Regions from separate parts of the Homo sapiens genome. Here region 2 is linked to region 1. The links come from fine-mapping of genetic effects on gene expression. A gene starts in region 1. The other region holds a variant in brackets. All regions are shown on one strand. Distances are between the middles of the regions.

Region 1 (4,400 bases):
CTTGAACAAAGAATTGGGGAAAGCGCACAAAGCAAGGAAAGAATGAAGCAACAAAAACAGAGATTTGTTGAAAATGAAAGTAGGCTCCACAGTGCAGGGGCAGGCCCGAGCATAGGGGATCAAGAGTCCCGTTACAGAATTTTCTGGGGTTTGAATACCCTCTAGAGGTTTCCACTGGTTACTTGGTGTGCGCCCTATGTAAATGAAGAGGATGAAGTAAAGTTACAACGTCATTTAGTTGGTGTGCGCCCTATGTAAGTGGAGAGGACATTTCCTGTTATAGCTGAAGTATTTCCATTTGATTCAGTTCTAGGTAGTCAGCCTGAATCTACTTTACGTTCCCTGCCTCCAGACCCTATTCTCCTGCCTCCTGCCCACAACTCCCAGGCTCCAGTGATCTACCCGCCTCGGCCTCCCAAAGTGCTGGGATTACAGGCGTGAGCCATGGCGCCTGGCCAAAATGTAAATGAGTCCTCGTAAAGCAAAAAAAGTATTGTGAGTAATAAAGTTGAACTACGAATTAAAATAGTTTTTGTATATGTGTGGTAGTCCAGATTATCTATACATTTAATTACATTTTGTGTCTGCTATGAATTGACTTAAAGGAATTGTCGGATATGTCGTCTCACTCAAGGCCTCATTGTTGACAAGTCTCAATTTTTTTGGAATTTAGTTCCTTGAGCTGTAAATGAGAAGACTGGGCTGTATCTCAAAGGACACTGACAGCCAAAATAAGTTATGGCACAGGGAATTTGGCCAGGCCTGGATCAATCTTTGATGATAATAAAGAATGAATTCATAAAGCAGAAACATTAATTAAGCGAGAGAAGAGAGTTCTCCATCTTTATTTGCAACCAGAGCAGACACAATGTGTTTCCTGTCCTTTCTGCAAGTAGCCATGGGAAAGGGGGGGAGGGGAGAGAGGACAGGGACAGGATGTCTTTCCCTGACATGTCACTCAGCAGCCTAGATCTTTACATTTTTTCATGGCCATCAAGTCTGATAACCCACAAGTACGTCCTACAAAACGTAAGAATTTCAGATAACTTGTTAGGGTGACAAAATAAGTGCTTAATTTCATTTGCATTTGTTAAATTGTTTTCAGGGGCCTTCCTTTTTGCCACTGTTGTAGTGTGAATTTATAGTGACATATTGTCAGACTTCGGAGAAGGCAAATATTTACAGAGAGTAACTTGAAAGGACTTTGGTGTACCTTTGGTAGGCGGATGCTGTTGCCAGTTGGCAGGTGAATCGTGAAAGAAACTGGGAACAGGACAAGTGAAAACGGAGAGGGGCCAGGATATCTAAGACCGCGCTAGGGAGCAGAAAGGGAACTTGCTTTTTCAAGGTGGTGTAGCTTTTAAATTAAGCCTTTGTGATATTTGATTATACGCCAATCTTTGATGACAGAAACGATGTCATTTATCTTAATATTCCCAGCGCAAGAGAAAACCGATAATCAAAATATTTGTTCAATTAAGTAGAGTAAAAATCAGCGGGAATAAGATAGGAAAAATGAGACCGAAATAACAGAACATCTATTATTGGATGCTAAAACTTTTACAGGATTTACTGCAGGAGGACTGCAAAGGGAAAGAAACTTCAACGGAGCAGTTTTTCAGATGGGCTGTCAACAAACCACAATTTGGAAGCAGCAGCAGAAAGCTGCGGCGTTGTCTTAGAAAGGTGATCGGCGTTCCTTAGAAATGAAAACTGGTCAGGTAACAGGTTTGAGCCCCTCGAGTCAAAAGAGAAAGGCAAGAGCGACAGCGACCCGCAGATTGGCAGAATGGAGGAGCGTCTAGGGTGAGAGAAACTCCGAACACGAAGCCGAAGCGAGAGCACGCAGGGCAGCTGGCGGGAGAACCCCGGTCCCGCGGCCGCACCGGGTAGCTCGCTTTGAGCCTGTTCCTTCACAGAACGGCCAGGAAGCCTTAAAAGATGTGCAGCTCGGGCAGGTATCTTGGCGTGACAACTTCCGTGTGTGTGTGTGTGTGTGTGTGTGTGTGTTTTTGAATGCAACAGGGTGCGCCGCCCGCGAACTTCCGCGTGCGAGGAAGACTGGAGACCCGCCCGCCCGCGCCCAGCCGGCCCCAGAGGAAACCCGCTCTCCCCGCCCAGCCGGCCCCCTACGCGGCGAGCCGGGGCGGGGCGGGCCCGAGGCCACGCCCAAGCTGAGGCACAGCCCTACAGGCCGCCCGGGCCGCGCTAGCCCGCGCCCCGCCCCGCGACTACATTTCCCGGCAAGCCCCGGGCCGCCAGCGCGCCGCAGTTGACCCATTTCCCGGCCCGTCACGGGCTCGGCCGGCCCCCGCGCCCAGGAGGCTGCTCCCTGCTGACTGGGGTGTGGGCGGGAGCGGCGGAGGGAGGAGGAGGCGCTGCTTGCCGCCGCTGTTGCCTCCGCTGCTGGGCGCCGGGGCAGCTCCCCGGGTATCTGCGGCCGCCATGGACGAGCAGGCGGGTCCCGGCGTCTTCTTCAGCAACAACCACCCGGGCGCCGGCGGTGCCAAGGGGCTCGGGCCTCTGGCGGAGGCTGCCGCGGCCGGCGACGGGGCGGCTGCGGCGGGGGCGGCCCGAGCCCAGTACAGTCTCCCGGGGATCCTGCACTTCCTGCAGCACGAGTGGGCCCGCTTCGAGGTGGAGAGAGCCCAGTGGGAGGTGGAGCGGGCGGAGCTGCAGGTAAAGACCCTCCCGGCCTGGCCGTCTTCATCCCGCCTCTTTGCTCCCTTCCGCCCCGCCCCGGACCCTTCTCCCCCTCCCCCAGCCTTCTCGCGTCCCCTCCCCCTTTGCTGCCGCCCATCCCACCCGGAGCCCCGTCCCCTTCTTCTCTTCGCCTTTTGCCTTTCGCTGACCCCACCTCGACCCTGTTCTCACTCCCGCTCCTGGTGCGTTGTTTACCCTCCCCACGCCTGTTCGTCCGCCCCATCCCACTCTTAACTCCCAGACTCATTTCAACTCTCTGGCCATCCTGCATCTCAGGGCTGCCCTCTCGGTTTACTAATTGGGCTGGCAGTAGTTTTGAGAGACGCGGAGCAAATCGTCCGCTGCCCTGGTGTGCCCCTTCCTAGGTCTAGAGACAGTCTCCGCAGAACGTGCCGGCTTTGGCCCCTCTCTTCAAGGAAGGTGATCAAGAAGACAACAGAAGTTGTGTCAGGCCTTGAGTCGAGGCGAGAAGTTGACGTTGGGCAAAAGTGTTATTCATATATCAGATCCCTTTTTTTATATATGTAAATGTCTGTTCTCCACTTTCTTCCGACCCCCCGGCCCCCTCCCACGTTTCTTTTAGGTATTTCCAATTAATGCATTTTGAATGAAGGACCTAGATGATCGCAGTCAGAGAGAATGGTTAAGAGGTGGTTCCTGTTCTCAGAATCTGAAACTTCCCAAGGGTTAATTTTATGTTCAGTGTTTTGGGAGATTTTCTTGTGCTTTAAAAGGAACTAAAGGGACTTTGAAGTTAGTTACATTGCCTTGCATAATCTGCAAGATAAAGTATATCCAGGGAGGAGATAACTGTGGGCTCTGAAAAGAATGAAAGTGAGGCTGATACTTTACAAGCCATTCAGAATTGGTGAATAGGTTTTCAGTGGTTGTTCTTAAAACTTCCAGGGCATACACACCAATTTCAAAAGGAACTTAAAGAACTATGAATAGTTGTGCCTTTCTGTTTTACGGGCTAAGCCTGTATACTTATGAAATTTGAGTATAGTTTTAGTTGGCAAAACACTTGAGTTTAAAATGCTACCCAGTGTGTCACTTTTTTTGGTAACATGTATTTGGCGCTTAAGAAAAAAAAGAAGAGGAGAAATCTGTTAAATAGAATCATGTGCTGGAACAGGCTCTGGTGTAGTGGAAGTGGCTGTGGAAAGAGCGAACACACAAGGCTGTAGTAGACAAGGTTATAGTAAGGGCTGTGTTTGTTGCTAGCTCTGTGACCTTGAGGAAATCCTTTAACCTCTCTGGGTTTCAGTTTTATCATGTATTTTATTCAGCACCTGTGTATTGAGTGCCAGCTGTGTGTCTAGGCCCTGTGTTGAAAGAAAACCGACCAAGCTTCTGCCCTCATGGAGTTTATGTTTTAGTGGAGAGGCAAACAGTCCAGCAAATGCGCCTATAGAATATAATGGCTTATAGTGGCAACTGCTGTGAGGAAGAAATAAGTCAGAGTTCAGGAATAGCGTGTGATAGGGGCAGCTATTTTAGATGGGGTAGTCAGGGTAGGCCTCTGAGAGATGACAAATGAGCAGCTGAATGAAGTTAGGGAGTGACCAGTAGTTTCTATGATTTCCTTGTAAGTCTGTAGTTACATGTTTATATTATTTGGCAACTTTTTCATTCCTATTGTTATATTGCTGTAGTATTTAGTCGATCTAGTCTATCTGATATTTGCAAGTCTTCTT
Region 2 (4,400 bases), 130 kb after region 1:
AGAATTTCTCTAAGTCTATCATAGCTCTTATTTCCTTTTTATTATTACAATAAACATTCCTGTGTATATGTTTGTCACCATGATGGTTTTACGTCTGCGGAATAGATTCCCTGGAGTAGGATTGCTGCATTGAGGAGTATGTATATTTAAATTTTTAAATAAATATTGACAGATTGTTTCCCAAAGTGGCCGGAACAGTTTTTATTTCCATCAGTAAATGTATAAAAACACTTTTCCCTTAATACTCATGGCAATAACTATTGTAACATTAAAAAATACGTAGAAAAAAGAAAAAAATCCTGGTGGATGTAGTGATTTTTCAGTGTTATTTTAATTTCCATTTTCCTGACTACTATAAATGTAGACATCTTTTCAAATGTTTTGGTCATCTGGATTGCACTCAGAACTGAATTATCTATTCAAAGTTCTGTAGGTTAGAACTCCAGGGAAACTCAACTGGGCTGTCTGTTCAAGGCCCAACAAGGCTGAAATGAAAGTGTCTTCCAGGGTGGGTACTCAACTAAAGCTCTGAGGAGGAATTCGCTTCCAGCCTCATTAAAGTCAGAGGATGGAGGTCCCTGTCTCCTAGCTGACTGTCAAATCTGATCCTTTAGAGGTTGCTCCGTGGTCCTTGCACGTGGTCCCTTCCACCTTCAAAGCTTGCCAGGGTGCATCAAATTATTTTTATACTTTGACTCTACTTCTACCAGCCAGAGAAAACTGCTTTTAAAGGGCTCTTGTGACTAGTTTAAGCACACCCAGATTGTTAAGGTCAACTGATTAGTAGCTTTAATTACATCTGCCAAGTCCCTCTGCCCTGCAATGTAACATCAACCATGGAAGTAACATGAGGGGCAGAGTTCATGGGGGCCATCTTAGAATTCTGCCTACCACAAATATTCGTAGTTATACTTTTATATACATTTTTAAATTTTTCTTATTTTTGGTCCATATGTTTGTACCGTTTGTCTTTTTAGTTAACTAGTTTGTGAAAGCATTTTGTATGTTGTACAATATATGTTCAGATTTTCTTATCTTGGATGCAAACATTTTTTTCCAACTCTTGTAAGTTGTCTGTTGACCACATTCAAAAGTACTTTTTCCAAATAAAACTTTGCCTTTTGAATTTCACTTGAGTGAATTGCATATTTGCATTTTAAAATGTTTATTTTGTTATTTTATTAAAGTTTTGCCCATGTTCCACTGTGTTTTTTAAAATTTGCAGGTGCTCTTTTTATACTACATGTAAACCCTTTTTCTTACTATTTGCCAGTGTTTTTCTCCAAAACTATATTATTTTTGTTGACCATGTTTATAATACCTTTTCTCATTTAAAACTTTATATTAGGGCTTGGCAGGGTGGCTCACGCCTGTAATTTCAGCACGTTGGAAGGCTGAGGCAGGAGTATCGCTTGAGCCCAGGAGTTTGAGACTGGCATGGGCAACATAGTGAGACCTCGTTTCTACATACAATTTTTAAAATACTAGCTGAGCATGGTGGCACAACAGTTACCCTGGAGGCTGAGGTAGGAGAATGGCTTGAGCCCAGCAGGTGGAGTCCAGATCGCTCCACTGCACTCCAGCCTGGGCGACAGTGAGATCATGTCCCAAAAAAAACAAACCCGAAAAACTTTTTATTAGTAGATCTTCAAGTATACTTATATATAAAATATAGGCATTTGTGACTATAAGCTTTTGGAAGTATTCTTTATTGATTAAGAAGGTTTCCATTCCTGGGTGGCATGTATAGGCCGCTAGAATGGCTTCTACATTTTTTGTTTTTTGGTTTTGGTTTTCTACATTTATGTCTTTACTCCATTTGTGTGTGTGTGTGTGTGTGTGTGTGTGTGTGTGTGTGTGTGT[GTA/A]GAATGCAAACAGTCCAACTAAATTTCTTCCAAGTGGGTTGCCAGTGTAGCACTCTATTAAACAACCTTTTCCCAATGAATTGAAACACCAGCATTGTCATATATTAAATTTATATATTTAATGAGGTTTATTTCTCAATATGCCATGCTGTTTCACTTACAATTCTCCTTTCATATGACAATATCATATGGATTCAGTTATTGGTGGCCTTATAATATGGTCAGGAGAGCTTTTCCGCTTCCCAAGCCCCTGCCCACTGTTCTTTTTACTGCCTTTGTTGGCTATCCTCAGCATTTGAAGTTTGTAATAATTTAATCCAATTAGGAGTTAAAATTACATTAAATTTACATATTAATTTGGGGAAGTTTGACCCACAATACTGTCTTCCCATCTGAGAACAACATATCATTTTCTGTTTGGATCTTATTTATATCTTTAGTAAGATTTGAGAGTTTAAGTTCTTTGCCTTTAAAAAATTTTTAATATGTTCTTATTTTGGTCACTATTGTGACCATTTTCATTTATAAGAGCTTATTACAAATAAAGAGAGGAGCCAGGTGCATGGCTCATGCCTGTAATCCCAGCACATTGGGAGGCTGAGGTAGGAGGATTGCTTGAGCCCAGGAGTTCCAGACCAGCCTGGGCAAAATAGCAAAACCCCATCTCTTAAAAAAAAAAAAAAAAATTTAAGAAAATACATTTTAAAATACACAGAGAAAATCTGTTTTTGTATGCTTATATACAACAAACATTGTAAATGCTTACTAAATCTCATGAATTATAGCAGGTTTTCACTAGAGTCTCGAGATGTTTAGAAATACAATTGGGACATTCACAAAAATAATTTGATCTTGTCTTTTTCAATGTTTGACTGATTCTTTTTTTGAAATTTTTGTTGTCTAGAAACTCCAATGTGGTGTTGAGTTATAATGGTAAAAGTAGGCCTCCCTGTCTATTATTAACTTTAGTGGAAATGGTTTTGGTATTTAGTTATTTAGAGTATTTTACTTGTTATTTGGTAAATAATCTCTATTTTATTTAAATAGGTTCTTTCCTGTTTTTCCAGGTTTAAAGAATGGCTGCTGAATTTCATCAAATGCCTTCTTAGCATCTTTTGATGTGATCATGAGTTACTCTTCTTTAAGCTGTTGACTAACCAATTGTGTGTATGAAGTTGACATTAAAACATGCTTGCCTCCTTGAAATAAACCCTATTTGGTCATATATGTTGTTGTTTTCATATAAGTCCTTGTTTCAGTTGCTAGTCTTTTATTTGGAGCTTTAGCATGCATATTCATAGATTAGTCTTACTGTTTTATTTAAGGGTCTCTACTTTCAACTTTTCTTTATTCCTTCATTTTAAGTGTGTTTCCTGTAAGCTGCCTATTTCTAGGTCTTCCAGGAAAGAAACTGGCTGGTAGTTTCTTTCAGTGGATATATTGGGTGTTCACTGGTTTTGTTTTATTATGTTCATTATTTTACTTCATTGTTTCTTTTCGTTTTTGCTGGATTGATGAAGTCATTATTCACTTCCTGTCTTTCTCATGTTAATGTGGGATTTCTACTGTGCGTTTCTCTTTCAAAATTATCTTCATTCATAATCAGATATCTTCCTGCTACTCTATGAAAAAACAGAATCACTCTAATCTTCACTAACCCCCTACCAACCTGAAACAAAAAAATGTGATTTTTAGAATACATTCACTTCCTGTGCCTCTCCAAAATAAGTGATGCTTAAAGATGCTGTTACTTTCCCTTTCCCCATTCTTTGTCTGCGTCTTTGGTTTTGCCGTTACAATTTAATTTCTATACTTTTAGACTACTTAAATTTCCATTTCAGGGTCTTATATCAATAATGTTAGTATTTTCCTCGCATATTTCCAGATAGTCTGTCATTATTTTGATAGAGAACCAGTCACATCAGTGTTTCTTAAGCATTTTGGCATTTTAAGTGGGACAATTCTTTGTCATGTAGAACTACCTCTCATGCATTTTGTGTCATGTAGAACTGCCTCCCCTCCCCTCCCCTCCCCTGGCCTCCCCTTGCCAGATGAGGACACAGCAAGAAGGGAGCTATCTGTAAGCCATAAAGAGAGCCTCACCAGAACTCAACCATGGTGGCATCTTGATCTTGGACTTCTAGCCTTCAGACTGAAAAATAAAATTTGTTTATTTAAGTCACCCAGTCTATCATATTTTGTTATGGAAGCCCAAGCTGACTGTATACAGACAGCAAAGGAAATCTTCCCAGAGGCCCTCCAACAGACTTCCCACATATCTCATTGGCCAGAATGTTGGCCTCCTCTACGTTTAAGGGATGTTGAGAAAAAGTATCTCACTTTTCTGCCTCTATAGGAAATAACAAATTCCAGCCAACAAATTCTCTCTGCCACAACTGTCTTTAGTCCTTCATTCCTATTTTGCAATTTCCCTGTTAAAATAATTAATTGGGAGCCATTAGGCTGAGACACCTCCAGCACCTTGGGTTCTTATGTAAGCACAATGTACACAGTAAAATGAAACTTAACCAATCA

Direction of the effects. Alleles are on the strand shown, and positions count from the first base shown. SD is a standard deviation of normalised expression in the study named.
For the expression in regulatory T cells of the gene that starts at base 2,373 in region 1, allele A in region 2 goes with a lower level than allele GTA (large effect, 0.92 SD a copy in Bossini-Castillo 2019).

The links. PIP is the estimated chance that this variant, and not a neighbour inherited with it, causes the effect.
Region 2: its variant is fine-mapped to the expression of STRN in regulatory T cells (Bossini-Castillo 2019, PIP 0.95).

Annotation. Positions count from the first base shown.
Region 1 is chr2:36,964,509-36,968,908 of GRCh38, reverse strand. It overlaps STRN (striatin), which reads left to right and starts at 2,373. Exons shown (of 18, transcript NM_003162.4): 1 at 2,373-2,679. The coding sequence starts at 2,446. RefSeq lists a silencer at 1,883-2,692.
Region 2 is chr2:36,834,429-36,838,828 of GRCh38, reverse strand. It overlaps STRN (striatin), which reads left to right. Exons shown (of 18, transcript NM_003162.4): 18 at 1-1,131. Among named protein-coding and RNA genes, the nearest start is that of STRN, 130 kb to the left of the region's middle. The variant GTA/A (reference allele first, on the strand shown) is at 1,864.